Linked DNA regions of Homo sapiens: all the other regions are linked to region 6. The links come from fine-mapping of genetic effects on gene expression. A gene starts in region 6. Each other region holds a variant in brackets. All regions are shown on one strand. Distances are from middle to middle. Region 1 overlaps C5orf52 (chromosome 5 open reading frame 52). Region 2 overlaps ADAM19 (ADAM metallopeptidase domain 19). Region 3 overlaps NIPAL4-DT (NIPAL4 divergent transcript). Region 4 overlaps ADAM19 (ADAM metallopeptidase domain 19). Region 5 overlaps ADAM19 (ADAM metallopeptidase domain 19). Region 6 holds the start of ADAM19 (ADAM metallopeptidase domain 19).

Region 1 (5,260 bases), 110 kb before region 6:
TGCCATCTGTGCATAGGAATGCACCCCACAGACCTCTAATTACAGAAAGCAAAATTGACTACGGGCTCCCAACTGTTGCACTGTGAAATCCATCATCATGTTTATACTGAGACCAGATTTCCTTCAAGCTTTTTCTAGCTAGTTCCTGGGTATATAAGGGATACTAAGGCAGGCCCATTTCTGGGAGACATGCTAGACCTGCCCTTGGCCAAACATTTGTAATGACTTTTCCTGAAAAAAAAAAAAAAAAAAAAAAAAGGATGTTTTATTGACTGAGCTGGGCAATGCCAGGCTGGTGGCTTCTTTTTTTCTGTTTCTATTTTTTTTCTTGTTTTTTTTTTTTTTTAAAGATAGGACCTCACTCTGTTACCTAGACTGGAGTGCAGTGGTGCAGTCACGGCTGCCACCTTAGCCTCCCAAGTAGCCGGGACTACAAGCATGTGCCACCAAACTTGGCTAATTTTTTTTTTTTTTTGAGTGACAAGAGCCAAACTCTATCTCAAATAAATAAATACATAAAAATAAAGTTTTGCACGTAATTTATGAAGCCCATAAAGGGCATCTTAAGGGCCTATACTCTTAGAACATTTCTGGAAGGACACACAGAAATGGTTATTGCTGTGGCCCTGGAGAGGAGGAGGGGAATTTTCCTTTATTGAATACCCTTTAAATGGAATTTTATATATAGTGCTTGTATTACAATTTTAAAGTTTTTAAACTTGTTAGTTATTTTAAAGGAACTGCTGTTCTAACACTTTGGAGTGATCACAAACTCACATACCTTCAGGGGCCAGGGAGATTAAGTGCACTTGGGTTTAGGGAGATGGCAGTGGTGGGAGCTGCAGCTAACTGCAGCTTCCATACCACACCCAAAGTACTTTAATTCAATACCATGAGAAGCATAGTGTTTGATCAAACCAATGCCCTGCTATTGGTCCCAGGACTATTAATTAGTGACCTCAGCTTAGAGTGATAGTGACAAGTTTTATCTGAAAATCTTTCAGAGGAGTCAATGATTCCTTAGTGAAGTATGCAGAATCTCTAAAGCAATGAGGGGTTGGGGGGACCACCATGGAAATTACCTGAGAGCTCCAGAGAATATGGCTGGTTCTGCATAATGCAATTTGCAAAGAAAGGGTTATCCATCCAAGCCTCTGTTTTCCTGATGTGTCCAACCCCTGCCTGGTGGAAACTCCTAGTCTGATGGGAGATGGACAGAGTCTAGTCTTGGAAGGCAGAGCTCATGTCAGGGCAGGCCCTGAAAGGTCTGAGCTGAATTTCCTCAGGTAGAAATGAGGGGAAATCTATATTCCTTTCAGGGTGAACAGTAGAATCAAAAGTTCTGAGGTGGGCCAGGCATAGTGGCTCACACCTGTATTCCCAGCACTTTGGGAGGCCCAGGCAGGAGGATCACTTGAGGCCAGGAGTTCAAGACCAGCCTGGGCAACACAGTGAGACCCCTGTCTCTACAAGAAGTGAAAAAAATTAGTGGGGCATGGTAGCACATGCCTATAGTCCTAGTTAAGAGGCTGAGGTGGGAGGATCACTTGAGGCCAAGACTTCAAGACTGTGGTGAGCTATGATCATGCCACTGTACTCCAGCCTGGGCAATGAGAGGAAGAGGAGGGGAGGGGAGGGAAGGGTGGGGGGAAGTGAGGAGGGGAGAGGAGGAGGGAGGGGTGGGGGGAAAGAAAGGAGGGAAGAAAAATGGAAGAAAGGAAGAACAAAAGGAAGAAAGGAAGGAAGGGAGGGAGGGAGGAAGGGAGGAAGAAAGTGAGTTCCAAGGTGGAAAATCAAGGGGCCTGTTTGGAGAAGTGAGAGAATTCATGGGATCTGGCCCATGGGAAGAAGTATGGGAAATCAGGTTGAAAAGGCAGATTCCAGGGAATCAGGCCCTCCCAGCCCTCTAATGTGACAAAGTTAAGGAAGAATTCTTCCTGGTGACCATTTCATTCTTGTGGAACGAGTGCACTCAGCCCCCCAGAAGTAACTGTGGAAGGCTTGGTTGGAACCCCAGTGACCAACCATTGCTCCTGACCAGGTTCCCAACAGGCACATGCTGGCTTGGGATGCTCCAAGGCC[C/T]CCTGGAGGATATGGATCTATCTCAACCCAATTTCCTCCTCCTAGGGGATTAACTGAACATGAGGGAAGAGAGCAGATCAGTGCTCAGAAAGGGAATGTATGTTGCTCAGGGTCTCAGAGGAAACTGAGGAATCACACAAGCTGAACTCCCACCTCTAGATTCTTATTCCAAGGCTCACTCCCCAGCACCAGGCTGCCTCTTGAAGTGTATGTGTCAACTCCAGGTACAACGCAACAATTACAATTCCCAACAGAACCCCCTTCCGATTCACCTACAAGATGCTAGGCCTTGGGCTAGGTTCTTGTCAAGCTAACTGGGTTCTCAGAACAAGCCTATAAGATAGGTACTACAATTATTCCCAGTTTCCAGATGAGGAAGGTGAAGCTCCAAGGGGCAAAATGACGTTCTTCTTTCTGCAAGGCAGAGCCGAGATTCCAAATCAGAGCCATTTGACTGCAAAGATCGTGCACATCAGATAAAAGAAACCTCACTGAAGCAGGGAGGGACACACACAGCCTTCCAGGCTTGGGAACAGCATTTCCAGATGTCAAAGGATCGTACAGAGAAAATACTGTGCAAACCAGATTCTCCCCATAAAGCCCAAAGGAGGCATCCTGCCTTCAGCCAGAGGCACCAGACTCCAGCAGCTGATTCCTGTTTCATCTGATTCCTGTTCTTCCTACTCCCCTCTCCACCACCCCGAGACTATTCAAATATAAGCTTTGGCTGGGTGCAGTTGTTCACACCTGTAATCCCAGTACTTTGGGAGGCTGAGGCGGGCAGGTCACCTGAGGTCAGGAGTTCAAGACCAGCCTGGCCAACATGGTAAAACCCTGTCTCTACACAAATACAAAAAAAAAAAAAAAAAAAAAAAAAAAGCTGGGCATGATGATGGGTACCTGTAATCCCAGCTATTGGGAGGCTGAGGCAGGAGAATCGCTTGAACCCAGGAGGCGGAGGTTGCAGTGAGCTGAGGATCGTGCCTTCATGAAAGCAGAGGATTTGAGTCTGTTTTGTTCACTAATGATTTCCAGCACCTACAAGAGTGCCTGGTATGTATAAGGAGCTATTAATAAATAAACATGTGTTGGATGATGTGGAAGGTGAATGTTTTTTAACTATAGGGAGTTTTTGTTTGTTTGTTTTTTGAGATAGGGTTTCCGCTCTCTAACCCAGGTTGAAGTGCAGTGGTGTGATCTTGGCTCACTGCAGCTTTGACCTTCTGGGCTCAAGTAATCTTCCCACTTCAGCTTCCCGAGTAGCTGGGAGTACAGGCATGCGCCACCACACCAGGCTGATTTTTCATTTTATTTTTTATTTTTTGTAGAGACAGGGTCTCACTACGTTGCCCAGGTTGGTCCCAAACTCCTGGCCTCAAGTGATCCTCCCACCTGGACCTCCCAAAGTGCTTGGATTACAGGCATGAACCACTGCGCCTGGCCAAACTTAAGACTATCGCACAAAGCTCCTGTATGGGGGTACTTCCATTAGCTGGAAGACGCAACTTGAATGACAGTGGCTTGGTGACAGAAGCTTTGAAAATGCTCCTGGATGAGCAGACTGGATAAGGAATACCACTGGGAATCACTTTGTAAAGTGATTAGTCAAGTTAAACTCTCCCTGAGTGATCATTTTGATAAGCCTGGACTTTCTTGCTTTGCTCAGAGCAGGATTTGTTTCCTTCCACTCAGCAGACATTCGTGAAGCATTATGTATGCAAAGCTCTGTGCCACATCTCAGGATCTGAGAAATGGAAGGAAGTGCAGAAATCACCCACCAGCCCCACCATTCCTGAAGAGCAAGTGGGAGAGCTGAAACCCAGAGAGAGGTTACTGAGGGAGGCAGGAGGTCCCAGTCCAAGGCCTGCCCCTGGCTCTGTCCCCTCGGCCCTCATAGGTCTGCAGACTTTCAAAGTCAGCAGTTGGACCAGGCCCAGAATTTTAATAGGCAGAGTAACACTTCTGACTTAACAAAGCGCTGGGCTGGAAAGTGTTCCTGCTAGGGGTCTCCAGGAATTAAATGACTTTGGTGGCCATGCACGGTGGCTCATGCCTGTAATACCAGCACTTTGGAAGGTCAAGAAGGGAGGATCACCTGAGGTCAGGAGTTCGAGATCAGCCTGGCCAACATGGCGAAAACCCTTCTCTACTAAAAATACAAAAGTTAGCCAGGTGTGGAGGCGCATGCCTTTAATCCTAGCTACTCAGGAAGCTGAGGCACGAAAATCACTCGAACCTGGAAGGCGGAGGTTGCAGTGAGCCGAGATTGCGCCACTGCACTCCAGCCTAGGCGATAGAGTGAGACTCCATCTCAAAAAAAAAAAAAAAAGAAAAAGAAAAAGAAAAAAATGCCATGTAGGAAATGACATACAGATAAGCCTTGAAGGATGAAGAGAGAGCTAAAGGGACATTCCAGATGAAGGATCTTCGCAAATAAAGCTACAGTGTGGGGACTATCCAGGTGTAGTCTGGAGAGCAGGCAGAACAGGGAGTGGGGACCACTGGAAGGCTACTGGAGCCATCATGGTGAGAACCACTGGAAATGATGAGCCCTGGGCTCAGCACTTTACATCCTCATGCTAGACCTTGGAGGTAGGTTCCCTTACTACTACCACATTCTTTCAGATAAGGAAATGGAGGTCCAAGGAGGTGACAAGGTCACAAGACTGACTGGTGGTAGAAATAGCACTTAAGCCAGGTCCTTCTGATGCCTCCCCCTGACCTCCTTACCACTGGAATGCCAGGCAGTGGCATTACTGAGGCCTTCCATCTAAGGTACCATTGTCCCAGCACACTTGGCCCGGCATGTCACCTCAGACATGTGGGCACCGAGAGGTCAATCTTTGCCTTAAGCATGGAAGCTAGCTTGATCCCACCTTTTTGAGTTGAGCATCTACGAGACTATCAGGACCTCCTTCACCAAATAGAGGGGATGCATGGGCAAGGAATATGAGGATTGCTGAGGATTTATTATGCTCCGCTGTCTGCTGGTTTCTGTTTATTGTTCTACAGTTGTGTAGGTTGTAGTTACTAGTTCTCCTCGGGTCACACTGGTGTCATCGTGACCCTGGGGCAGATCCCTTTGCCAGAACTAGGGTGGTTGGCCTTTCTTGGGAGACTGGAGTTTAAACTGGTGGTGGTATCCCGAAGGTTAAGTACCGGTTGCTGTTCACGGATT
Region 2 (5,260 bases), 33 kb after region 6:
ATCATCTTGAAATTCTGAGATGAGATCTGACTGTCCAGGCATATCATGAAGCATTCATTTGGCCAGGCAAGGGCAGGGATCTTGACCAACTCCAGGTGCCCTAGTCAGCAATGCAACGAGAGGGGAGTATTTCTTTAAATGCAAGTTGGGCCACTGTTTATCTCAAGAAGGTGGCATGGATGCTGGGCAGGCTCTGACAATAGGTATCCACTATGATCTATGAGGGCTTTCCAAGTTCTGACATCCTTGACTTATGCTTTGGGTGCGGTCTGTGTCTTAGTATGCTAAGAAACATTGGGCAAGTTTATGAAAGTTACTGGGATATTTAATCAGAGCTTAAAAAGGGCTAAGCACCTACATTTAGCAGGCTGGTTTGTGGTCCTCACCTACCTGTTTTATGTTTGTTTGTTAGTTTCAGGGAGTGGTCCGCTTATTCCCTTTTTTCTAAGCATATTCTCACAGCTCCAGTGATCTCAGAGGGTCCTTCTCTTCATTTCCCCTGTGTCTTATCCACACCGTTTTTCTTTATGATATGGCAGTTTCCTCATACCCTCTTACATTCGTCTTTCCCTTCAGGTTTTCTGTGGTATCGGCTAATCTGATCAACACTGTGGTTATTTACCAAAAACTGGTTGCTAGAGAAGTTGTTCCTACTCACCATTTTCGCTTTTAGATTTTTCTCAGAAATTCTAAAGGTAGCACCTCATTTCCCCGAACTGTTCTTATCTAATTCCAACAAATACACATAATGGGCTATTCGGGACACTGGAAAACAAATTTGTGAACTCTTCTTGGGTGAGCCATTTTGAGGGCCCCGCAGGTCCCTGCCAGTTAAGTTGTCTGATCTCAAGAAGTCAGCTCTATTTGTGCAGAGAGGTTACCCATCTTCACAGAGGCAGCCACGAGGGAGGCCTGAAGAGGATTAAGTAAAGACCCTGCTGGCCAAAGGAGTCAGTGGTGCTCATCCAAACATCCTTTGGTATATAATGTAAAAGCAAAACACAGGACCAGAAACTGGTCGGAAGGGTGCCAGGTCTTGTGCGGACTGGGAGAAGATGTCGTGGGAAGTGGTTGGTGAAAGGGAGTGTTGACTTAACGCATTGTTTGGAAACTTCCTTAATAGGAAGTTAAAGAAAACATACTGAGTAGCATTGGCCTTTTGCCAGGCTTCTGGATGGCGCCATTTTTGCCTTCGGAGTGTTGCTTCCAAAGCTGGTCCTCTGGCAACGATGGTGCTTATTCAAGGGAGTCCCTGGGATAGGAGGAGGTCCCAATTTTTTACTCTAGGAGCAACCTCCAAAGTTCCCCCTTCCTTCGCCTTTCTGTTCCCTCATAAAGGAATGTGTCTGCTTGCAGCCCCCTGGACTCATCAGTCCCTTATTTGGCTTTAGGGCCATGCCTTTGGCACGTTGGTTTGTTTCCATTCCTTTGGAGTCAGAGGTGGAATGAGTACTGATGTAGAAATCTTGGTTCTGAAGCAGCTCTGGCTGTCTCTTCCCTGCTTTTCTTTCAGCATCTTAGAAAACAAAACAATACTCACTGAATTTATTTTGTCCCAAATCTAGACTAGTGCAGGCCATGACATTAGAATAGCACTCTGCTTTTCAGAGACACTTTCCAGTACCTGTCTGTCCTGGGCATTGCCATTTCTGCTTGATAGAAAGGGAAACTGAGGCTGAGTAGTTTGTGACTTGCACCGTATCACCTAGCCAGTTAAAAAATATTGTCAAAATTTACAAACCCAGAAGGAGAGAGACTAGTATTATAAACCTCAGATGCCCATTACCTAGATTTAACAATGATCAAGATTTTGCCACGTGTATATATAGCTAGTGCTGGAGAAAATGATAGCAATATTTGTAAAGCACAAATACTTTCTACTTTACAAATAATTCTTTCACATTTGTTCATATGATCTTCCTATATGCCAGGCACTATTCTAACATCTTACAGGGGCACTGTGAAGTAGATTTTGTCATTCTCCTCATTTTATGATGAGAAACCATAGGCACGGAGAAGTTACTGACCAGTCTGAATTCACACGACTTATAAGAGCTAGGATTTGAATGTATTTTCTCATTTGATCCTCAGCATCGCTGTGATACTGATGGTGATTATTAGTCTGTTCATTTTGCAGTCTAGAAAATGGAGGGGGTTTATGTGGCTCACGTGAAAACAATTTTTATACAAATACATAGTGAGCACTTCTCGAAGTTTTATTTATCTAATTAATGGGCTAACCAGCAAGATGATAAAACTGGTTTAAAATTGGATAAGGGAAACTAAGACGTATTTGTGTGG[C/G]GGTGTGTGTGTATTTAATAGTGAAAAAAGGAATGCTGAGATAAGATTGCTAAATTAGACACAAAACTAGTTAATATCCTAGGGGCTGTAAAATCATAACCTTTGGGGTTATCTTTTCTACTAGATGGAAATATTTGCATTTCTGTTGTATCTTATTAAGTTTTTACAAGTTAACATCTGATTTTACAGAGTGGAACAAGGGCTGTCCTAATTAATTGTAAATAGTACATCTTTCAAAGCCACACTCTTCCCATAAAGTCCAGAGAACCGTAGACAGGCCTCTGAGAGTCTAAGGCTTGGCTGTGCTCCCTTAGTGTTTTTTAATTTAATGTTTTGAGACAGAATCTGGCTCTGTCACTCAGGCTGGAGTGCAGTGGTGCAATGTCAGCTTACTGCAGCTTCCGCCTCCCGAGTTCAAGCGATTCTCCTGCCTCAGCCTCCTGAGTAGCTGGGATTACAGGTGCGCGCCACCACACCTGGCTATTTTTTTTTGTAGAGACGGGCTTTCGCCCTGTTGTCCAGGCTGGTCTGGAACTCCTGGCCTCGTGTGATCCACCTGCCTCGGCCTCCCAAAGTCCTGGGATTAGAGGCGTGAGCCATTGCACCCAGCCCTGGCTGTACGCTTGTGTGACATTGAGAGGAACCATAGTCATCTTTTGCTTCATTTCCAGGCTTTGGAAGGGCAGTTGCCTAGTGCAGCTGCTGCTTAAACCAAAGCATTCCGACTTTCCCTCTATGCTGGGTTAGCACCATCTTTAGACTTTTGGAAGGTGATTAGGAGGCTAGAAATAAAAAAAAGAATTAAAAATGTTAAAATTGCTCAAATGGAGTAGAATAATTCCCAGAACCCGAAAACATAAATCACCTGAAAAAAAAAAAACTATTAAAAATACAGATTTCTTAATCCTTCCCTAGAAAAGGGAGGGGATTGTGTATTTTTGAACAGTCTTTCCAGGTGTTGTGCAGTTGTTGGGCTAAGTCGCATGGTGAGAACATTATTACTAACATAGGCAGGATGAAGACCCTCCAGGTGAAATAAGAGAGACCAGAAAAGTGGACCTCCCAAGGCATCATCAGGGTATAAATGCCTGGAGACTCTTGGAAGAATTAGATAGAGAAAGGCCCAGAGAAAGGAGGTGTCAGCAAAACTTGCTACTGAGATGAGCAGAGTGATGCTCGCCTATGCTGAGCTCGTCTGCAGAGGGTGTTTTTCAAGGTAAATGGGAAATTGTTATCACTTTATCTTCACTGGTTTGCTTATCTGAAGCAGGAGGAAGAAGGTTTGAGCTCCCAGAAGATGTTTTGCAAATTCATTTTAGTGTCACTGCTCCTTCCTCTCTAGAGGGTGGTTTAGCCTAGAGAGGCATTTGAAATTTGTCTGACGATAAATAGAACTTAAAGGAATTGTCCTGAGTTTGAAGCTTCTGAGCCTTAGGAAAGACGGGTCTGAGCTGTTTTCAGGCTGCAGTGTACTTTCAGGGCCTGGCTGCTTGTACAGGTTCCAGTTCTTCTTCCCTAGAGAGTGACCTAATGTTTTATGTCCGGTATTTGGGGGTAGCTTATTTTCCTAGGTGGGAGTCTGAAGATGCAGGTTTTGCTCAGGGACTTTGGAATCTAAATGACCCAGATTTTGCTCAACTCTAGTGCTGGCTATTATTATGATGGTGCCGAGACATGGCAGAGTGTCCTACTGATTTCTGCCTGTCCGTGGGCTCCTGAGCACAGAGCAGACAGAGCAGGGGGCAGCAGGGTAGAACAGAAATTGCTTTTCTTTTAAAGCTAGAAAAAAGGAGTGGGCGGAATGGGAAATCTTGCACAGTCCTTTCTCTTCCTGGATGCACATCACTCACAAGTCGTTTCCTGAAAATCCTAATGCAATCCAATGGTGAGAGACGGCTTCCTGCCGGTCTGCTGAGCCAGCCCCTCGTCAGGGAGGAGATGAGAACAAGATGTGGTCAGAGAATGGGGCAGCTGGGCTGGGCCGGGCTGCTCAGTGACCATGTGCCCTCCTCTCTGTGGGACAGCAGCGTCCTTTGGTTCTGAGAGCAGCACCTGGACACATGGGCGTATGTGGACCTAGCTTGGGGGAGCTGCAGAGTTGTTCAAACAGATGGCTGGCCCTAACCCTAGAGTTTCTGTCTGATTCATGAGTCTGGGTGGAGCCTGGCAATTTGCATTTTTAACTAGTTTCTAGATGATGCTGATATTGCTGCTTCAGAAAGGGTGATTAGGTGGAAAATGAAAGCGGATTGTTTTATGTAGATTCAGAGGCCAGAATGAAGGCCTGTGGGTGCCAGTGACAGAGGTGTAGTTTTTAATCCGGAGTAAAACATTAAACTACTGTATGTGGTCAGAAATGGAGTGGGTAGTCTCAGGAGTAGCCTCTCCCTGGAGGTGTCCAGTGGTGAATAGCCATTTGGCAGATTCCTACACGAGATAAAAGGTTCATTCATTCGTTTGCGAGTTTATTCACTCATTCACAGAATGCACATGTACTGCCTGCTTGCTAGGTGCTGGGGGCCGGGGAGAAGACTTCAAAGACACAAGGTCCCTGTTTTTGGGGAGCTCACAGTGTAATTGGGGTTTGACTACATGATTTCTAGGGTTCCTTTCAGTGCTGAGGGTCAGAGAGGCCTGTGATGATGGGGTAATGTCACTGGGTGAATGATTTCTCCCCCCTTGCTAAGTCTCAGAAGAGGCTGAGAATATTTTTACCAGGAGTGCATTTTCTGTGGGAAAATTCACACTTCCCCACTGGCACCTGGAATGAACTATTAAACTCTGAACTCCTGACCAGCTGTACATGGCGCAGTCTGTGAAAGCAAACCCAGGAAATGGGCTGCAGGAATGAGCACATTGCGTTTTACCACCTCTCTTAAGTGATGTACTGGAGAGTTCATGGCTGGGGAAAGTTAGAGAGAGAAACTTTCTGGGTTCTTCTGTCATAATCCCTGTTGAA
Region 3 (5,218 bases), 120 kb after region 6:
CTGCAGGTGAGTGTGCCCAGGCCCGCCTCTAACTTTGGAGGTGTGTGGTACCACCGTTCAGGTAGAGGGGAACACCTCCAAGACTATATGAATTTGAACACAGAGCAGCAAGACACTAGATGATTGGCCCTATTCGGAAGTGAGACTTCATGATGAAAAAATATATGCATCCATGCTACCTGCAAGGGAGAATTTGACAAGAGAATTCAACTTATCTTTCTCTTCTCTAAGCATTTCTGCTGTTCAGCTCCTCCTTGTGCTATAAAACGGAGTCAGCACTGAACCTGGAGTGGTACAGTCCTCAAACCCTCACTGCATTCAAACTTGACTGCTTTTATTCCAAGAACATAGGGTGAGAGATTCGGAGTATTTCCCTCTGGTCTGACCTTTTTTCTTCCTCGCTTTATTGAAGTATGACTGACAAATGAAAGTTATATATATTTAAAATGTACAACATAATGATTTGATATAGGTGTACATCGTGAATGATAACGACGATTAAGCTAATTAATACATCTATCACCTCACTTAGTTATATTGTGCGTGTGTGTGCATACATGCGTGTATGTTGAGAACACTTTAAATAGTGGCTTCTCTTAGTGGCCTTTTTGAATCACAAGAGAGGATGTTTCAGATTGTAGTTGCCAGAGCTAAGCCCAGATCCTGAGAGACAGATGCACATATATGTTCTTTAATGCATTTATTTTTGTATGTGTTTGTGATTTGTGGAACCTCTAAATTTTAGGGTCAGGGAAGGGGCCTCCTTGTCAGGGGTTAAGGGCAATATTGAGTTTATCCTATGCTTCAAGACCGGCCTTTTCAGAGTCAGGAGAATCTCATGTTTTAGGGCAGTGGCATGAGGGGAAGGAGGCTAGGATCCACTGCAGGGACTTTCACAACCTCACTGGGCCTCAGGCTCCCCATCTGTTCTAAAAGGGGGCTGGGCCTCAACAGGGCTGGCATCAGAGCATCTTGCCAGTGTAGACATAAAGGGCCCCATTGAACTGCAGTCTTCTCGGCTGCTTCCTGACAAAGCCCTTTTCTCCTCTAGCCACAATGGCCCTGTCAGGCAGGTAGCAGGGCCTGCAGCTTTGTCTCCCCAGAAAAGAACAACAGGGTTCACTGTCTGTTCCAGGCTCAGTCTCCCTGAGGAGGGTGGGTGGCTTACGAAGGGTCTAACAAGCCAGGGACAGATGGGTTCTGCCCTTAGCCAGCCAGCGACTGGTGACCCAGCCGCAGCTCTTTCGGTCAGTTATTCTGGGATGAGTAGGAAAACAAATTCACCAAAACCCAAGTTTTTAAAAACTTGACTTTTCCAAGTGCATGTCCAGATGTTTTAGGTTACAGAGCTGTGCCGTCCAATATGGCAGCTACCAGCTGCATGTGGCTTTTGAGAACTTGATGAGCCGCTAATCTGAATCGTGATGTGCTATAAGTAGAAAACAGGCTCAGTTAGCATTTTGGACTAGATCGTTCTTTGTTGCTGGAGGCTGTCCTGTGCTCGTAGAATGTTTAGCAGCACCCCTGGCCTCTACCCTCTGGATGCCAGCGGCACACACACCCCTGCACCCCGACACCCACCCCAGTTTTGACAATCAAAAACACCCCCAGACAATTGCCAAAATCACTCTGGGTTGAGAACCACTCAGATTTCAAAAACTTAGTAAGGAAAAAAAAGGAAAATCTCATTAATGATTTTTAAATATTGATTACATGTTAAAATGATAATATTTTGGATGCATTGGGCTAAGTAAAAACATTATTAAATTATTTTTCCTATTCTTTTCACTCTTTATAAAGTGGCTACTAAACTGTTTAAAATTACATATGTAGCTCATGTTATGTTTCTTTTGGGCAGTGCTGTTAATGGAAGAAACTGAGTGCCAGAGAGGGAAAGTGACCAACAGAAGGTCACAGAGCAACAGAGAGGCAGTCCGGGCCCCAGTCAGGTTTTCAGACTGGCACCTGTAGGATAAATGCACCTGGTAGCAATAACTTAAGCATACGCTTACAATGAGCCTGTACAGAAGACACACCTGAATGTCTGTTCTAAGCTCGGGAATCTGGGAGTAGCCAACCTGGAGACTCGTTTCTTGTCTATGAGGAACATCTGAGCCCCTTGCCT[A/G]TCCCATGGAATATGGGCTGTACAGAAGATCCAAGCCCTGAGGTTTGAGTTGGATGAAGGTTGCCAGGTGGAGGTCGTTAAGGGGAGGGTGTTAAGTGAAGATGGAATATAAACTGCATGTGGTTTGCAAGTGGTTGTGGTTTTCCTGCCCAGCCCTTCGCCACTGGGTTATCTTGTCCAGCCCACCGCGGCCGGACTGTAGGTAAAGAGGACATCGTGTCTAGCCTGTCACCAGTGGACCTTTTCTGTAGGTAAAGATGATGTGGTGTCCTTACCTGTCCTAGCCTGTTGTCAGTGGGCGGGTTTTCCTGTCCAGCTCACCACCACTGGACTTTCTTCCCTGTATGTAAGCTGCCAATCAAACCCCACCTCTCATTTGCTGGCTCTGGGTCTCTTCTTCAGCCCCTTGAACCTGGTGCCTTCCCTATTGAGGTGAATAGGAGTTCGGCACAATAGCACTCCAGAACAACTCTGCTGCTCCATACAGCTTCACAATGGAAAGGAAATCCAGAAATCAGTGCATTGCGTCTTTCCAGTGTGCTATGGTCAAAGAGCACTACAGCAGGAATAGAGAGGAGAGACATTACGTCTGCGGCTCACATTATGTTTAATCTTCATTTAATCTTTGCAACAACCCTAGTAAGAGACTTTGTTGTTAAGCCTGTTTTCCAGATGAGGAAACTGAAGTCCTGTGAGGACTCTTAGCCTGCAAGTTGAGAAACTAAGAATCAAACCCAAATACTTCTTTTAATACTACACATACTGTCGTGCAGTCCTAGGTCTAGTGAGACCTGGATAGGTCTCACCTCTTCTCCTTACATCCAACCTGGATAAGAGGACCGCGCAAGATATAGTCTGAAGTCCTTCCCAGCCCTGCTGAGCTGGTCTTCTGGGTAGGGTGGGGAAAGACAGATGGTTGTCACCTCCTTCAGGCTGACAGGGAGTCATGGAATCTGGATGGTCAGCATGCAGAGGCTGGCCCACCCCTTTTCAGGTGTGTCCCTGGGATGGCTGCTGTCCTCATAAATAGCTTTGCTGACGTCAGAAATAAGGCTTGGAATGGACAAGTGTATTTTTGCTCTGGTTCTAAGAAGAGCACCATGCCTAACGATGGGATCCACTGGCATCGATAATGATTACTAACCCACCACTCTACCGAGTTCTGTGTGCTAAGCACTTAGCAGATATTACCTCATGTGCTCTTACAATTCCTTACTCTGGTACCACTTTAAATCCCATCCTACAGATGAAGAAACTGAGGCTCAGAGACGTGAAGTGACTTTCATAAGGTCACACACAGTGACAGAGAATTTCAAACTGGGATTGTGCATTCCCACAGCAGTTCCTTTAACTAAGGCACTGGTTTGATGAGGCCACTGGTTTGAAGATTAGTCCCCTTCCTGACCCTCCTCTGTATGGGAAGACTGGGGCCAGCCAGACACAACATGGGGCAACTATATAACCTTCTCGTCGGCCCTTAGCCAGAGTCAGAGTTGAAGAGGCTCACCTAATCCAACCCCCTTTGTTTGAAGTTGTGGGGAAACTGAGATACAGAGAGGGGCAAGGTTATGTCCAACACCACTCAGCTAATTTGTGGCAGAATCAGTACTTGACTCAAAGTCACTGGAATCCCAACCCAGCACTTTTATCTCTCTCTTTGCTTTCTTTCTTTTTTCTTTTTTTGGAGACAGGGTCTCACTCTATCACCCAGGCTAGAGTGCAGTGGCGTGATCTCAGCTCACTGCAACCTCCAACACCCAGGCTCAAGCAATTCTCTCACCTCAGCCTCCAGAGTAGCTGGGATTACAGGTGTGTGCCACCATGCCCAGCTAATTTTTATACTTTTAGTAGAGACAGGGTTTCACTATGTTGGCCAGGCTGGTCTCAAATTCCTGACCTCAAGTGATCCACCTGCCTCGGCCTCCCAAAGTGCTAGGATTACAGGCATGAGCCACCGCACCTGGCCTGTTTCTTTGCTTTCTTTCTAAGAAAGGACAGACTTTAGGACAAGTCATGAGTTAATAGTTTTTGGCCACTTTTAAAAGATAAGCCAATGCACTAAGGTTTTCACGGGTATTATCCCATTTAATCCTCAAAACAAGCCTAAGAATTAGGGACTGCTATTATTCCCATTTTAGAGATAAGAAAACTGAGGCTCAGGGAGGTTGAGAAACTTGTCTTCTATTAAATAGTGGAGCCATAACAAAACCCAGCAGACTAATTCTAGAGCCAGTTTCTTCTCAGGCTGATCCAACTGCATCTATGGGATTCTCCCATCAGAACATCTGCCTGCAGGTGGAAGACTGTCAAATTACTGTAGAAGGCAGGGCTCACGTCAACGCATGTATGTGGAAGTGCAGCATTGCTTGGCCTTGATGTGGGTGTGCACAGAGCCTAATGCACTTAAAGTATGTATAAGAACTTCAGATCTTGTCGAAAACCAGCTATAGTTAAAACAATAATATTGATATGAACTATTACTTGTTGCCCAACTTCCATGTTGCAGGTTCTTTATGTGTATTGCCTCTGAGCCTTACAGCAACCCCATGTTAGGATACCTTCATGGTAACTTCATAAAGTTACCCAAATTTTACAGCCGATGGCAGTGAGACTTTGTGAGGTGAAGTGACTTGCTCAGGTTCACACAGAGAATAAGTAGCTAAGCTGGGATTCAAGCAGGTTCCCAAAGCACCTGCCACTCTGTCTTCCTTGTTTCCTGACGTTTGCTTCTCACTGGCAACCGTAAGGGCAGAAATCTCCCGGTGGAGGATTGAGGAGGACTGTAGTTAACGATCGTCCCCTGGGCCTGTGTGGACCTACAGCATTTGGTATACGGGAACAGGGAGGGTGGGAACACAGTGAGCTTTGAATGTGGCCAGAGGGAAGACTGATTCTAAAGTTAACTTGAACATGAACAACAAACTTAGGCTCTGTTTTCCCTTTCAGTTAAAAACAAACAAACAAACAAACAAACAAACAAACAACCATCTCAGACTCTGCTGTTTGACAGGCTGGTATAAAAACAGACAGGAGATATCAGTTCCGGTCCCTGTTCTGTCACTAACACACTGGGACCTGTGGCAGTTCCTTTCC
Region 4 (5,260 bases), 88 kb after region 6:
TGTATTATTTTGGATATGGAAGATGTACAGTCTCTGAGTCACCTATTAAATAACACTTGTTCTGGAGGGGATTTTAAGTCCCAGGTCTTTCTGGATCTATGCCTGATGGGGATTGGTTGATGGCTCGTGACACCCTTGTGTCTCCTCACAGGGGAAGGGTCTTAAAAGGGTGAAGAGAAGGTGCTGAGAGAGCTCTGCTTTGTATAAGGCCAACTCTGTTTCCTTGAGAGTTCTCCATTGGCCACACGTTTTTCTACTTAGGAAGATGTGGTTCGAGAAGACCAATCCCACTCCCTCCAGAGCAGACTTGGGAAAGATTTAGCTGCTTGCTGGCCGTGCTTGGGTCAAAGGGAACTCAGGCACTGTCCCCTGCTGAACATCGTCCCCTTTCTTTTCCTCCCCCATTTCTTGTTTCTAGTTGTCCCTTCAGGGTTTCTCAGAACAGCGGGACTGGTCATGCCAACCCAACTTTCAAGCTGCAGACGCCCCAGGGCAAGCGAAAGGTAAGAGCTTTGCACCACTGAACTTTGCTACTTTTCCTTTATCCCTCAGGGCCATGCTGTATTTTTCTTTTTGAGATGGAGTCTTGCCCTGTCGCCCAGGCTGGAGTACAGTGGCGCCATCTCAGCTCACTGCAAGCTCCGCCTCCAGGGTTCACGCCATTCTCCTGCCTCAGCCTCCCAATTAGCTGGGACTACAGGTGCCCACCACCATGCCTGGCTAATTTTTGTATTTTTAATAGAGACGGGGTTTCACCGTGTTAGCCAGGATGGTCTCCATCTCCTGACCTCGTGATCCACCCGCCTCGGCCTCCCAAAATGCTGGGATTACAGGCATGAGCCACCATGCCCGGCCGCCATGCTGTGTTTTTCTAAGAGCCTCTGTGGGCCCATGGGATTGGTAATAAAAGCCCTTTTATTGGCTGGAGAGACATGTTATTTGGTTCTGACATCCCCTAATGACTTTAAAGGTTGCATCTGACTTCTGGGATCCTCAGGGGTTTAATAGATTGGTGTGTCTGTTCTCCCTTTGGGCTCTGGTTTATCTCAAAGAGACACACAAGGCCAGCCCTGAGTGATTTCTTGTCTCAGGTGTTCCTTGACTTGTGCGTACAGGTGATCAACACTCCGGAAATCCTGCGGAAGCCCTCCCAGCCTCCTCCCCGGCCCCCTCCAGATTATCTGCGTGGTGGGTCCCCACCTGCACCACTGCCAGCTCACCTGAGCAGGGCTGCTAGGAACTCCCCAGGGCCCGGGTCTCAAATAGAGAGGACGGAGTCGTCCAGGAGGCCTCCTCCAAGCCGGCCAATTCCCCCCGCACCAAATTGCATCGTTTCCCAGGTAAGTGGATAATCAGCAACCTTGGGCTGGGAACATTGCTTTTAAGGCCACTTTCAATGGGTAATGGCAAAGGTGGGGAAGGTGAAACTTGTGGGGTCATGAGCTGACTGCCTTTTCTGCAATTCAGTCAATACGGGGGCGCACAGCAGGTTAGAGCAACGAACGTGGGGAAATAGACTCTCTAAGAAGCTCCTAAACCATGTGGCATTTTCTCCCGGGTTGGCCTATTTTATGACAAGCCACTACCCACCTTCCACCCCATATTAACTTCTGTCAGTTCCCCCATGCTCGTCTGCCTGCTAGGTCTTTGTAAATGCTGCTTGTTCTGCCTGATACGCTCCTTCTCTCCTTGGTGGGGCCACCTCCTGCTCATCCTCAGATCTGCTCCTAGATGCCGCTTCTCCCAGGAAGTCTATCCTGATTCCTCAATTCTGAGGTTGATGGGACTGTACTTCTCTCATCATAGTACTCTTCCTACCAAATTGTACCTATTGGTACCTTCTACTGATTGGAAAGTCTTAGGGATGTATCCTGATGCCTTGCCCATCCCAAGGGGCAGGTGCCTCTGGGAGGTGAGAGTGGGGTCTAGACTCTCCCCCACCAGCCCTGGTGCTCTTGGAGGCATAGCCTGCCCAGCAGCCTGTTCCCACTGCGTGTGTGTGCTCTGATGGCTCTGACCACACCTTCTGCAGGAGATCCCCCAGTGCAGACACAGGTGTTTCCTGGGTGGCGGCCGGGTGGGGTGCCTTCTGGAACTGGCCTGTGTGTTTTGGGTGTGACCCCTCAACTGAGACTGCTTTCTCTGGGTGTAATCCAGAGGGCTCCATGGAACCCAAGCTGTCTCTGACCCTAAGGACTCTGGGGTTGGCTGCAGGCTTTGGAGGGTCCTTGGGATGTGTGGCAGTGGTACAGTTTGGGAAGGCTGAGGGCATCCATTCTGTTTCTCTGCTGTGAAACTGCTGCTCTCCCCTTCCTTTTATGTGGGGCAGAGGTAGGATGGAAAAATCCATGCAGAAAGAGAGGAAAGATTGACAGGGAGAGAGAAGGAAAGAGGAAAGGAAAAAAGCAAGAGAGGGGAGGAGTGGAGAGAGAGAGGTGGAGAGTGTACTCGTGTGCTGAGGGTGCTATAGCAGAGTACTGCACACTGGGTGGCTTCAAAACAGACACTTATTTTCTCACAGTTCTAGAGGCTAAGAGTCCAAGGTCAAGGTGCTGGAAGGGTTGATTTCTGAAGCCTCTCTCTGTGGCTTGCAGGTGGCCGCCCTCTTGCTGTGTTCTCACGAGGCCTTTCCTATGCACTTCTGCCTCCCTGGTGTCTGCCTGTCCAACTCTCCTCTTCTTATGAGGACACCAGATTGGATTAGGTGGCCTCATTCTATCCTAATCACCTCTTTAAAGACCTTATCTCTAAATATGGTCACATTCTGAGGTACTCAGGGTTAGGGCTTCAGCATATGATTTTTTTTTTTTAAATGATGAGTGCACAGTTCAGTCCCTAACAGAGAGATGAAAGAAAGGGAGAAAGCAGGCGTGTAGAGACTTGGGGTTACAGGAGAACAGGAGTGCCAGCAGAGGGAGGAGGGAGTGGGTCGGG[C/T]GAGCAGTCCACTCAGACTGTTGTTCTGAAAAACCCACACTAGAGGCATGTTCAGAGAACACGGGGCCAGCCTCACCCCTGTCACCCCTAGGTGCTGAGCCGTAGGTCAGGAAGTGTCAGGGACAGCGGGGACCCAGCTGTCTGTTAAGTGGTGGAGGCTGTGCATACCCTGCACCTGCACCCCTGGGACTGCTGGCAGGAGTCCCGGGTGCAGGAAGCTGCCCAGCCAGTGGCAGGCACCCCAAAACACAGCCCCCAAGCACAGCTTCTCCTGGGCCCCGGGTCCCAGGTGGGTGTCTCTCTACAAGCGAACAGTGGGAGGCAGCTGCTCTGAGTGGGGGCTGCTGTGATGACATTGGGCTGCCACCTGCCTCCTCACAGCCATTCCAAGAAGGGAGTTGCTGCAGCCCTCATTTCTCTTGGAGGTTGCCAGGCCTCATAGGATTGAAGGGACTTGCCCGACATTGCACAGTTGTGAGTGGAGGAGCTAGGACTTGAACCCAGGTCTCATCCAGCTGAGTGAGACAGCCTCCTGCCCTGGGGCCACTCACAGTCTCCAGTCTGCCATCAAAGATTCCCCACCTCCTAGCTGGGGGACATGGACCCCCTGGAGAAGTGATAGATGAAACCTCATCACTTCTTCAGTTCTGCTATTCTAAACCGGCTTATGCACCTGCACTCTGGGCCAGGCAATGACGAGGAAGGCAGATGGCAGCTTTGCCTCCAGGAGCTCACATTCTGCTGGGGCAGTGACTCTGGGATATGTGTCACTGCAACAGTGATATGTGCTGTGAAGGAGAGGCTCAGGGTGCTCAGAAGAGAGTAACGAGGATTTGACCTAATCTGGGAAATCCAGGAAGGTTTCCCTGAGGTGGTGACATTTGAGCTGAGACATGAAGGAGGAACAGGACTTAACCAGGCTGTGAGGGCAAGTGATGAAGGAGCTTTCCTGGTCCCAGGACCCACTAGTAGGGAGGCTCTGTCATGGGAGAGGGCCCTGTGGATTGAAGGAACTTAAAGGTTTGTGTGCTTGGGTCCCAAGGAGCTATGAGATGAGGCTGGAAAGCCAGGAGGAGCCCGTCTATGCCCAGGCCACATAGCCTTGGTCAGGACTTTGGTCTGTATTCCATAGGAAGAGGACAGTGGTGACATGATGCAATTTTCTGTTGACAAGGATTGATCACTCTTTGGGATATCTTTAGGCAGGAGAGAGGTGTAGTTCCTGCAAGGGGCCCATAGATGCTTCTGAAGCTGTTAATCTACTGTTTGACCTGCATGGGGATTACTTAGTGTATTCACGTTGTGATAATTCATCTAGTTGTATATTTATGATTTGTTCGCCTTTTTCTGTGTGTATTATATTTGAATTTTTAAAATAGTTTTAAAAAATGAAAGTCACTCTAGAAGCAAATGGGTGTCCTAGTTAGAAGATTTAAAGGTTGTCCTGAAGAAAGATGGTAAAAGCTTGGAGCAGGGAGTAGGCAGGGCTGATGAAGTGAAGCTGATGAGAAATGTGCAGAAGAGAAAATAGATAACGAGTTGAAGATCCATTGCTTGGCAGGGGATGACGCCCCGTGTCAGGCTTGTGCAATCTGATTGAGTAAGATGCCATCCCTTGTGGAAGGGAGCATGGGCCAGAGTAGCTGAGGGACTGTTTCTGCTCTAGAAAAAGGAAAACAGTGCTGGGCGAGGGCCCTGGTAGGGCTGAGTTGGATCATCGCAGATGTGGCCTGTGGCTGGTTGCCCTGGGAGGCCCAGTGCTGACATGCTGATGAGGCTCCTGCCCAAACTCCAGCCCCTCAGTGGCTCATTTGCACAGCTCCCTTGGGAGCACAGCCTTTCCCAGTTGCAACCTGACATCTGCACCCAGCTGTCACCTGCCCCAGAAGGTCTCTATCCTGGCTTCCAGCAACCATTGCAACTTGGCAGCTATTCTGAGCTGGGGAAGGTGGTGGTGAAGGGGGCGGGTTGTATTGTCCTTCTAGATAGAGCTGAAGAACATGGCTTTTTGGCCTTAAGAATTTGCTTTAGTTTCTGATTCCATGAAGCTTCTTGGGGAAAATCTCGGCTCTTTGTGTTATTCCTGCCCTCTCTATGTGCTTGCCTTTTGTCCACTTTAATACGTGGTAGTGACCCTCTCGAGAAGGGAAGGAAGTCAAGGGGAGCAGGCACTGGAACTCCCTTCTATGCAGTTGGCTTCCCCTTAAACCCCAACAGCTTGGGGGCCTGCGGGTGGGACAGTCATTCTTTGCCCCTTAAAAAACAATGGATCAACTAATACGTGTTGAGCACCTACTGTATACTAGGCACTGTTCTGGAAGCCAAA
Region 5 (5,260 bases), 63 kb after region 6:
GAGACAAGCCTGACCAACATGGTGAAACCCCATCATTACTAAAAATACAAAAATTAGCTGGCCATGGTGGCGAGCACCTGTAATCCCAGCTACTCAGGAGGCTGAGGCAGGAGAATCGCTTGAACCCGGGAGGCGGAGGTTGTAAGCCGAGATCACGCCACTGCACTCCAGCCTGGGCAACAAGAGCGAGACTCTGTCTCAAAAAAAAAAAAAAAAGAAAGAAATGTGATTGAATCGATGCAGTCTCATAATTCTTCTCATTCTTCTCACTGTAGAAGGCACTGCCAGTGGATCTGAGTGGTGTGCAAGATGAAGCCTATTTGCCAGTGTCTTATGGTCCTCCTCGTTGGCACTCATGTCATTCACATGACCTCCCACTGTGGTTATTTCTGTGCACGTTTTCCCGGCAGGTTTTCTCAACCATTTCAGTTCTATACTCCTTAAGTACAGGGTCTGTCACTCAGCATCTGCCACAGTTATTTCTGGCCCTCTCTGTTTTAATTGAAGCTCCTCTAGGCTAGAACCAAGATCTCACACTTCTTTGTGTCCTACATAGTGCTAAGCACAATGCCTTGCCCATAGCAGGCATTCAGCAGCAATTCGATGATTGTTGATTGACCACATGTAGGGAAGCCTCGTGAGATCTGTGTAATGGTGGCTTCATGTTGGGGTGATGACCACGGTGAGGATTGGATCAGTCCTCCTAAGCCCCAGTGGGAGTTTGCCAGAGGCCATGTAATTCGAAGGACAGGAGAATAAGATGTGCTTCAAGGGTTAGAGGAAGGCAATTCTACTCCGTGCATAATTATTGCATGCCTACTGTGTGTGCTGCGCTGAGCTAGTAGCTGTGGATATGAAGATGGATGTTGACAGGTCCTACCCTCCAAAGCTCTTACTGTGGTGGGGAAGACAATTGCATAAAAATGATGGCTCATAGAAGACAGAAGAAAATAAGAGCAAATTCAAAGACAAGTAATGGGGCGCAGGAAGCATCCTGTGAGAGGTTCTGGGATCTCACATGGTTCTGCTTGTCCCATTTAGTTTCAGAAGAATCGACGAGACCAGGACGCCACCAAACACAAGCTCATAGAGATCGCCAACTATGTTGATAAGGTGAGACCAGGTGTGTACTTTGTGGGAAAGGTGCCAGGTGCCAGCACTTCCAAGGGCACTGGAGCTGCCTTCTGCTGGATTGGCTGCCCCAGCCATCTTCTGAAAGGGAATGAGCAGTGCCATAGAGGCCCAGGGCGGTCATGACAGAGCCCTGAACTACGTACCCTTAGGCAAGTAACTCATTTTCTTTGTGTTGCATTTTTTTTTCTTTTGTTCTGTTTTCAGCTTATAAATAGAAAGGCTGTCGTAAATCAATGTGTGGTTTTTTTTTGTTATTTTTATTTTCCTGGTGGAATTTTAAAAAATGAAATCTTATGCCAATATCTACTATAAAAGTTAGATGAAAACAGACTGCTCTAAGTGGGAGCTGGGGTGAGGACCCAGAACACTGTCCTTCTGACCCCTTCCTCTTACCCCTGCAGTGGCTCCCGAGCAGCTTGGGGCATGGAAGAGCCCAGTTTAAGAATCCTTTAAGGTTCTTTAAGGTTCCTTCCAGATACAAAGCCCAGGGATTCTCTGACTTAGGAGGGAATTGAGGTAGGTCAGGGTGGGAAAGACACACAGCCTTAAAAGTTGAGAAGTGGGCTGTTTGAGAAGTGGGTTGCTTGAGAAGCGGATTGTCTGAGAAGTGGGTTGCTTGGGGCTAATCTATAAAGTCTCCATCTGTAAAGTTATCCTAAAATTATGTCTTGTCTCTTAGGAAGGATGTGCAGTGGTTAACTTTCCTAGGTCAGGACCTTTTACAAGATGCTCTTCGGAAATACCTACATTTTTGAATTTTACTAGAACGGGCTGGTCTGGGACTTGGAAGTACATTGTGTATATGAAAGAAGATATTTGTTATAGTACAAAATGCAGAATAGGTAACCTAGAATGACAGTAGCCTCTTGGTAGGCTAGTAGTATATAGTTTTTAAAAGTAGTTTTTCATGTGTTTGGGATCAAAAGTCTCTTTGAGAATCTGGTAACGTTTATTGCACAATTTTAGAATACTCATAACATTGATGAAGCTTAACTTTGGGCCTGCTAGGGATTCATGAATTCCAGGTCTAAAGGGAAAATCATTTTTTCCTAAACACTAGAGAATATAGGAGATCACTTAAAATATGTTTTAGGGATTAATAGGCAAATGTATTAGTTCTGAAGTCATCAGATGGCAGTTTCCATGCCCATGGTTTTTTTCTGCCCTAGATGGCTCTGGAAACAAAGGTCAGTGGTCAGTGACAGGTGAAAGTCAAACACTGGCATTTCCTGGAAGGACAGACTCTAGGGACACAGTCCAGTCCTCCCTCTAGCTCCTGACTCACTCAAGAATAACATTTAAATAATCCTACAACCCAAACATTTGACATCTGGGAAAACAAGGGAAGCTTGTTTCCCTGGGGAGAATATGGGAGGCTGACTCTGCTTTCCCCCATGTGACATCTATTGTTTGGAGACCTGGCAGGTTCGGACTTGGCTGGGTATCCCCTCTGTGGGGTATGTGATGGAACCAAGGGCGCTGGTGACAAGTGAAGGGAGAAGAGAGGCACCAGCAAGCCCCAGTCCTTACTGAAAGCCCTAAGCCTGGGTGGCCCATGCATCCTGTGCA[G/A]CCGTCTTGGCTCTCTCCTCGCGGCTGGTGTTAGTCACTCCTGGCGGGTAAGGGAAGCCACGCCCACTTCTCTGGAGCTTGCTGACCTAGCTACTTGAACTGAACTATTGTTGAACTAAAACTGGAATGAATTGGACTCGTGCTGAGTCATGAACCCAATCCAAAATGTTTTTCTGTAACTGTGAAAAAAAGCCAAGTTTACTTCCTTCAAAAGCTCCCTAGTAAAGCAAATTCAAATTGGAATCTGAACCTTTTATTTTCTGTAACGATTGAACTGGCACAAAACAGAAAAATCAAAATTTCTGTTGAAATAAACTGATATTTCACTGAATCTGGAGCCCATCTTGACCAGCGTTTCTTGGAGCGAGTGGATTATCTGGATGTGTAGGTACTGCAGCACTGAAGTAGTAAAGGGTCACAAATAGGCTCTGAGGTTGTAATTTGGGCCTTCATCCTGGCTCCACCATCTTCTTGCTGAGACTTTGGGCAAGTTCCTTAACTTCTCTAAGCCTCAGTGCCTAGTACGTAAAAAGTGGTGGAAAAATGTTGGTGCTATGATTATTCTTTTCAGCTGGGGCAGTACCTACCAATTTTGGATAAAGATGGTATCTCCTGCTCATTATGTCCTCTCCATACATGGGGCTTTTTATTAAGTCACTGGCTCAGTATTTGTAGGGTGGACCCATCAAAGAACCCGTTGTATCCACACCTTCCAGTGGTTTAGCTTTAAAGAAAACCCTCCTCCTGCTTATATTTGTATGAGGTGAAAAATGCCAGATCATAAAGATTAGATGTAGCTCTAGCCTCGAGGAGGTCGAGTCAGATCTTGGGTATAGAATTTCAGGATCTCTGGTTTGGACAAAACCCTGAAGATTACCAAGAACGTCTGTAGTCTATTGCTTGCAACCTGCTTATTCCATCCTTGACAAAACCTGAGACTATCCAGGGATGGGGAAGAAAATTTGAAGAGTAAGCATATCTGTGCACTTTTATGTCATTTATACTCATTTACTTCCAAAATGAGTGGGAGACATTTTATAATAAAATATCCATGTATTAATATAATTTGGTATATCCATACGAAAGAATATTATTCAGCAATAAAGAGAAATCATAAACGAATACACTCTAACACATGGATACATCTCAAAAACATTATGGTAAGTGAGAGAAGCCAGACACACAAAACCACATATTGTAAAACAAATGTCCAGAAAAGGCAGAATAGAAACAAAGTAGATGCACGGTTGCCTGGGCTGAGGGTGAGAATGGGAAATGACTATCAATAGACATGAGGGATCTCACCGATGTGATGAAAATATTCTAACACTGGATGATGGCGATGGCTTTATTTTATTTTTATTTTTTTTTGAGACGGAGTTTCGCCCGTGGCCCAGGCTGGAGTGCAATGGCACAATCTTGGCTCACCGCAACCCCTGCCTCCCGGGTTCAAGTGATTCTCCTGCCTCAGCCTCCTGAGTAGCTGGGATTACAGGCATGCGCCACCACGCCCAGCTAATTTTGTATTTTTAGTAGAGATGGGGTTTCTCCATGTTGGTCAGGCTGGTCTCGAACTCCCGACCTCATGTGATCCATCCACCTTAGCCTCCCAGAGTGCTGGGATTACAGGTGTGAGCCACCACGCTTGGCTGGTGATGGCTTTAAAACTTGGTAAATTTACCAAAAAGCATTGAGCTGTACACTTAAAATAGATGGGTATTATGGTATGCAAATTATACCTCAATGAAGTGGCTTTAAAAAATCTATATACAAGAGAACTTTTTAGATACCCATAAGAAAGATAAGGCTCACATAAGGAATTGGGAGAAAAAAATTGTACCAGACAGCCTGGCCAAGGGCACTGATTACAGAAGACAGCAAAGCTCAGCTCTGAGCTATCTCATGACCAGCTTTGTTTGAAAGCCTTCTTCCTATTTTAAAATGAAATTTATGTTCCTGTCTGTTTTACCTATTGACCTAAGCCCTACTTGAACATCATGCAGAACAACTTTTTCCACATGATAGACCTATTCATATCTGAAAGCAATTTTATGTCCTATCTCAGTCATCTCTAAACAAAGTCACTGCAGTTCTGCCACCAGAATGTCCTGCTCTCTCTCAGGATCTCATTTTCCCTTTCTAAAAAATGTCAGTAACACCAGTTGCCTCCTTCTGTTGGAGCCATGGGCAGAAGAGAAATCTGGTATCTGTGCTCTGAGTTCTTAGGCTAGGAAGGAGCTTTTTTTTTAAATTTATTTTTATTTTTTAGTTTTAGTTTTTTTCTTTTTAATCTCAAGCTCCACCAGAATGAAAGGAAGGGGCTTTTAAATCCCAGGTGGTATTGACAGATACTGTGGTTTTTCTGTGTCCTTTCAGTTTTACCGATCCTTGAACATCCGGATTGCTCTCGTGGGCTTGGAAGTGTGGACCCACGGGAACATGTGTGAAGTTTCAGAGAATCCATATTCTACCCTCTGGTCCTTTCTCAGTTGGAGGCGCAAGCTGCTTGCCCAGAAGTACCATGACAACGCCCAATTAATCACGTAAATAGCCTTTT
Region 6 (5,260 bases):
TTTTTTTTTGAAATAGAGTCTCACTCTGTCGCCCAGGCTGGAGTGCAGTGGCGTGATCTTGGCTCACTGCAACCTCCCCTTCCGAGGTTTAAGCGATCTCCTGCCTCAGCCTCCTGAGTAGCTGGGATTACAGGTGTGCCACCACGCCTGGCTAATTTTTTTTGTATTTTTAGTAGAGACAGGGTTTCGCCACATTGGTCAGACTGGTCTCGAATTCCTGACCTCAGGTGATCTGCCCGCCTTGGCCTCCCAAAGTGCTGGGATTACAGGCCTAAGCCACAATGCCAGGCCACCATCCTATTCTTAAATAAGATAGCTACAAAGAGAAACAGCTACATACCTTCCTCACAATTTTCACACAAGGAAATTCCTTGTGGACAAAGGACAGACAGAATTTAAAGCCATCCCTCTGAGGCTCACCGGAAACAAATGCATATCTGATTGCTTCTTCTGCCCTATTGTTTATGTAAAAATGTAGATTCACTGAGCTAGACTAAATTGTGTATTCAGTGGAAGGTTGATCAAGGACTCAAAAGAATGTAACCTCTTCTGTTTCTTATCTACTTATAACCTGGAAGCACCACCCTTTCTGCAGCTTGGAGTTGTCTTGCCTTACCGGACCGGAAGCAATGTACATCCTACACATATTGATTGATGTCTCATGTCTCCCCAAAATATATAAAAGGAGGCTACACCCCCACCACCCTGGGCACATGTTGGGACCTCCTGAGGCTGTGTCATGAGCACGTTCTTAAGCTTGGCAAAATTAACCTTCTAAATTGACTGAGACCTATCTCAGATATTTCGGGTTCACAGAAAGATACGAATTTTACAGCAGCTGGAGACTAACGGAGTCCCAAACGACATTAATGGCCAGAACCACTTATTTGATTTCCCTCATGGGTGCCCATGAGTAGGGTTTGATAGACCTACCTACCCATCATCTTCAGGAGTGCCTCGCCCTCTCCAACACTTAGCACTTCTCTAGTCAACCTGGGTTTGACTAAAGAGGCTCAGAAAAAGGAACAGATGGACGAGGTTTGAGGCTGGGATTCTACAACGAGGCTTTGCTAAAACTTGCTGAGGGATCTTAGGCAAGTCATTTCTCTCTCATTATCAGTTTCTCCACCTGGAAAATAAGGTGTGTTGCATCAGGCTCTGGAGTTATACGGATGTGGGTTTGAATCTAGGCACTGACATTAGCTGTGTAATCTTGGGCAAGTGGTTTAGCCTCTCAGGTTTGATTTCCTCATTTCTAAAACAGGGATAGTACTAGTACCTACCCCATGGGATTACTGGGCTAATGAAAAGAGATAATGTATGCAGAGTCCCTGGCTCATAAAAGTTATTTTCTCCGATTAATTAAATAAGTGAATATGTGTAAAGTGCTGAAGACAGCGTTTGACACTTAGCGTTTTATCAGTCTTAGCTATCATGATTTTCTTATTCTAGTACATAGAAAGTCCTCAATAAGTAACAGTAGTTATTATTATTTTTGGTCACATGTCCCTGTGTTTCCCTCCAAAACCCTAACCATCCCCAATTCTGGTTTTCTCCCCGCATGCAGCCCAAGGGTTTTCACGTCCCAGTGCGATTGTCTGGGCTGTTTCCTCCGCCTGATGTTCCATTTCTCCTCCTCCCGATCTCAGATGGCTTCTCCTCTGGGATTCCTCTGGTCTTCATCACTCCCTCCTCCCAGGCAGAAGGAATGGCTCCTGGATTTGTGTCCTGCTTAAAAAAAAAAAAAAAAAAAAAAAAAAAAAAAAAAAAAGAAGTCCATATAGCACTTAGTTCTTTGTGCCTGGCGGTTGGGTTAACTCTTTCTGAGCCTGTCTCCGAGAGTGGCGGCCCCCGGGGGACGGCGCTGGGTGAATCACCTCTGAGTGTCACCCAAGGCGTCTGGCACAGTGCGGGACAGTAAACGGGCCGCTGTGCGGAGAGGGGTCCAGTTTAACTCCTAGAAGCCCGAGTCCCCGACCCTCTACAGGCCGCGTCCACCACAAATCCCTCCTCCTGGGGGGCTCGGATTCTCCCTTCCCCGCGGTCTCCCTCACCTGAGCCAGCCCCGCTCCCCCGAGTCTCGCCAGCTCCTCCCCGGCCCCTCCCTCCAGCCCCCTCCGGGCTGGAGCCTCCCCTCCTCCATCCCCTGGCGGAGGCCCGCGGGGCTGGAGGCGGAGCGTCTCGGCAGAGGGCTGGGAGCCGGGTGGGGAGGCGCGGGGCGAGCCGGGGGGTTCCAGACGCGCCTCCACCGCCGGGCAGTGGGCAGGTATGGCTGAGGGCGTGTGAGCGCCGAGCGCTAAGGGCCGCCGCCACCATGCCAGGGGGCGCAGGCGCCGCCCGGCTCTGCTTGCTGGCGTTTGCCCTGCAGCCCCTCCGGCCGCGGGCGGCGCGGGAGCCTGGATGGACAAGTAAGTGGCCAGGCGCGGGGGGATGGAGGCTGGGTGGCCCGGAGACCTGGGAGTAGCCTTGCGGGTCCGGAGCGCTGGGACCGCGACCCCTGCGCCTCCCGCAACTCCGCGGGGCCTGCGCCCCCGCCGTCCCCAGCCTGGGAGCCCGGGCTTTGTTCCCACGTTCTGCGCCCTGGGAGGTGGCAGAGGTCGGGGAAACCCGGCGCAGCCAGAAAACAGCCGGTCCGCTCACTGGCTAGCCTTCCCTTCTCGCCTTCTCCTTCCTCTGTTTTTCTGCTTTTGGCTTCTCTTTCCGCCGTTCTCGGGGCTTATCCTCCTCCGTTTTCTCACGGTCCCTCGTGTCCGCTCCGCCTCTCTCTCTGTCTTTCTCTCTACCGCCCGCTGCACTCGCCAACGCCGAGCATCCCGAGCGCCCTGCCCGTGTGGCCTGGGAGCGGCTTCCTGGGACCAGGCTCGGTGCCTGCCACACTGGTGGGGTAGGACATAAAATGCCCGCGGCAGACTGTGGTAGCCTTGGCTAGGGGATGGCTCGCTGGGTATCTGCAGCCACACACTTCGGATCCCCGAGCTGGCAGGAGCCCTACTGAAGGCCAAGTCAAACGCACCCATTTCACAGATGGGGAAACCGAGGCCCACAAAAGGGAAAGGACTTGCCCAAGGCCACGCCACGGGTTGAGGTCCGCGGTGGCACTGGAAACCAGGGCTCTCTTTCCACGCCAACCCGACGGCCGCCTTCTTTGGTCCTCAGTTTCCCCTTCTGTGAAGCGAAGGGGTCTGACTCGATGTTTCCAGCTAAGATGCCGGGTGATGTCCGTGTTTCTCAGGACTAGTTTCCCAGACACCAATCCCCTCCCCGGCTCCATCCCTCGGGGGCTATAAGCAGATTTCGCGGAAGGCTTGGTCCCGGGGGGCGGTGCCCGGGTTCTCTCATTATGACCGGAGAAGGCTTAGCCCTGGCTCCACCGCTGCAGACGGGCTGGGCTGACTCCAGACTGCTGCTTGGGGGACCAACAGTCAGCGTTTTCAAATAGAGCGAGCACCGGCGGAGCGAGGGTGGGCTGGCTGGACCCCCGGGCCGCCTCAAACCCAGAGGCTGAGAGCTCTTCCGACAGTTCGGAACTTCCAGGGGCCGAGGTCGGGCGGTCCTCCCAAAGGGCTCAAAGGAACCGCCCTTTGAGCTGTTGTTCCGAAGGGGAAACTGAGGCACAGAGGAGGTTCTAGGGTAGCACCAGGCCTGTGTCAGTGCTTAGTGCAGGAGAAAAGCATGAAGAAAGACAAGGAAAGCTAGTTACTGCTCCTAGCACAGGCGCCTTCTCTGAGTTTTGAGTCCTTGGAGAACACTTGCTGTAGAATATCTGGGAAATAACGAAAAGTGTAAAAGAAAATGATCTGCAACCCCCAAATCCACAGTTGCTGTTGATATTTTGTTTTTTTTCCCCTCCACATTCTTTGTGTGTTCCTATGGATATATATTGATAAAATTGGAACCATACCCATAAGTACAGTTTCGTGTCTTGCGTTTTTCACTTCACACCATGAGCGTTTTCCACATCATCAAATTCTCTGTAAAACATGATTTTAATGACTCTATACAAAGTTTTCAAAAGTTAAAAACACGACTCATACAAATGTGGCCAAGATTTATTCAACTCATTAATGAGGTAGCAAACAGGAGAGTAAAGCTGATTCAGGGAGCATTAGAAAGGGGTGATACAAGCATTGGAGAAAGAATGTTGAAATCATGTGGCCCAGGGCAGATGCAGAAATGGTGGATGCCCCATGAAGCAAACCATAATTCTTGGTTATCTTTCTTTTTTAATTTCCTTCCTTCATTCCTTCTTTTCTTTCTTTTTTTTTTTTTCAGAGTCTCTATCTGTTGCCCAGGCTGGCATGCAGTGGCACGATCTGGGCTCACTGCAGTCTCTGCTTCCTGGGTTCAAGCTATTCTCCTGCCTCAGCCTCCTGAGTAGCTGGGCTTATTGGCATGTGCCACCACACCCGGCTAGTTTTTGTATTTTTAGTAGAGACGGGGTTTCACCATGTTGGCCAGGCTAGTCTCAAATTCCTGACCTCAGGTGATCCGCCCGCCTCGGCCTCCTAAAGTGCTAGGATTACAGGCGTGAGCCATTGTGCCTGGCCAGGTTATCTTTTTACTATGCTGAAATCACTTACATCTCTGTCAGACAGAATTCTATAGATATATATAGATTATATAACTTCACAGAGTGTAGCTTTTAATCAATGGTAAATAAAAAGTCAATGGTACATTCCCCTAGATAATGCAGTAATCCATGGGTGAGTCTGTTAAACAATGCTCTGATACAACATTGAGAAGACATCTTGCTTGCTCTTGCCTTATTTCCAAGTTTTGGAGACCTTTTCTTAACATGTACTATGTTCCTCTTTTGGTGAGATTTTAGATTGCTTTCACTATTTTTTTACAATCGTAGATATCATTTAATTCCATTAAATGCTCCATTAAATATTATAGAATTCCTTTTTGTTTAAAATAATATAGACTTATCAGAGCCACCAGGGCAAGAGCGATGCTTGTCTTTTTTTTATTTCTGAGATGGAGTCTTGCTCTGTCACTCAGGCTGGAGTGCACTGGCGCAATCTTGGCCTCCCAGATTCAAGGGATTCTCGTGCCTCAGCCTCCTGAGTAGCTGGGATTACAGGCATGCGCCACCACACCCAGCTAATTTTCATATTTTTAGTAGAGACAGGGTTTCACCTTGTTGGCCAGGCTAGTCTCAAACTCCTGACTTCAGGTGATCCGCCCACCTCGGACCTCCAAAGTGCTGAGATTACAGGTTGTGAGCCACCGTTCCTGTCCTGCAGTATGCTTGTCT

The links. PIP is the estimated chance that this variant, and not a neighbour inherited with it, causes the effect.
Region 1: its variant is fine-mapped to the expression of ADAM19 in whole blood (INTERVAL, PIP above 0.99).
Region 2: its variant is fine-mapped to the expression of ADAM19 in whole blood (INTERVAL, PIP above 0.99).
Region 3: its variant is fine-mapped to the expression of ADAM19 in whole blood (TOPMed, PIP above 0.99).
Region 4: its variant is fine-mapped to the expression of ADAM19 in whole blood (TOPMed, PIP 0.99).
Region 5: its variant is fine-mapped to the expression of ADAM19 in whole blood (TOPMed, PIP above 0.99).

What each region holds. Positions count from the first base shown.
Region 1 is chr5:157,679,947-157,685,206 of GRCh38, reverse strand. C5orf52 (chromosome 5 open reading frame 52) reads right to left here. Exons shown (of 3, transcript NM_001145132.2): 3 at 5,049-5,260. The coding sequence ends at 5,208. Among named protein-coding and RNA genes, the nearest start is that of C5orf52, 11 kb to the right of the region's middle. The variant C/T (reference allele first, on the strand shown) is at 2,083.
Region 2 is chr5:157,540,181-157,545,440 of GRCh38, reverse strand. All of the region lies in intron 3 of ADAM19 (ADAM metallopeptidase domain 19), which reads left to right. Among named protein-coding and RNA genes, the nearest start is that of ADAM19, 33 kb to the left of the region's middle. RefSeq lists enhancers at 3,565-3,674, 3,835-3,894, 4,305-4,404, 4,545-4,664. The variant C/G (reference allele first, on the strand shown) is at 2,302.
Region 3 is chr5:157,452,345-157,457,562 of GRCh38, reverse strand. The region is part of intron 1 of NIPAL4-DT (NIPAL4 divergent transcript); the gene reads left to right. Among named protein-coding and RNA genes, the nearest start is that of NIPAL4-DT, 5.1 kb to the left of the region's middle. The variant A/G (reference allele first, on the strand shown) is at 2,126.
Region 4 is chr5:157,484,345-157,489,604 of GRCh38, reverse strand. It overlaps ADAM19 (ADAM metallopeptidase domain 19), which reads left to right. Exons shown (of 23, transcript NM_033274.5): 20 at 419-503; 21 at 1,116-1,340. Among named protein-coding and RNA genes, the nearest start is that of NIPAL4, 27 kb to the right of the region's middle. RefSeq lists a silencer at 2,887-2,976 and an enhancer at 2,644-3,144. The variant C/T (reference allele first, on the strand shown) is at 2,935.
Region 5 is chr5:157,509,287-157,514,546 of GRCh38, reverse strand. ADAM19 (ADAM metallopeptidase domain 19) reads left to right here. Exons shown (of 23, transcript NM_033274.5): 8 at 1,042-1,113; 9 at 5,080-5,246. Among named protein-coding and RNA genes, the nearest start is that of NIPAL4, 52 kb to the right of the region's middle. The variant G/A (reference allele first, on the strand shown) is at 2,704.
Region 6 is chr5:157,572,751-157,578,010 of GRCh38, reverse strand. ADAM19 (ADAM metallopeptidase domain 19) reads left to right here and starts at 2,236. Exons shown (of 23, transcript NM_033274.5): 1 at 2,236-2,408. The coding sequence starts at 2,315. It overlaps LOC124901121 (a long non-coding RNA gene), which reads right to left and starts at 3,032. Exons shown (of 2, transcript XR_007059018.1): 1 at 2,641-3,032; 2 at 1,401-1,731. RefSeq lists enhancers at 1-221, 222-837, 2,695-2,774, 3,011-3,540 and a silencer at 2,085-2,524.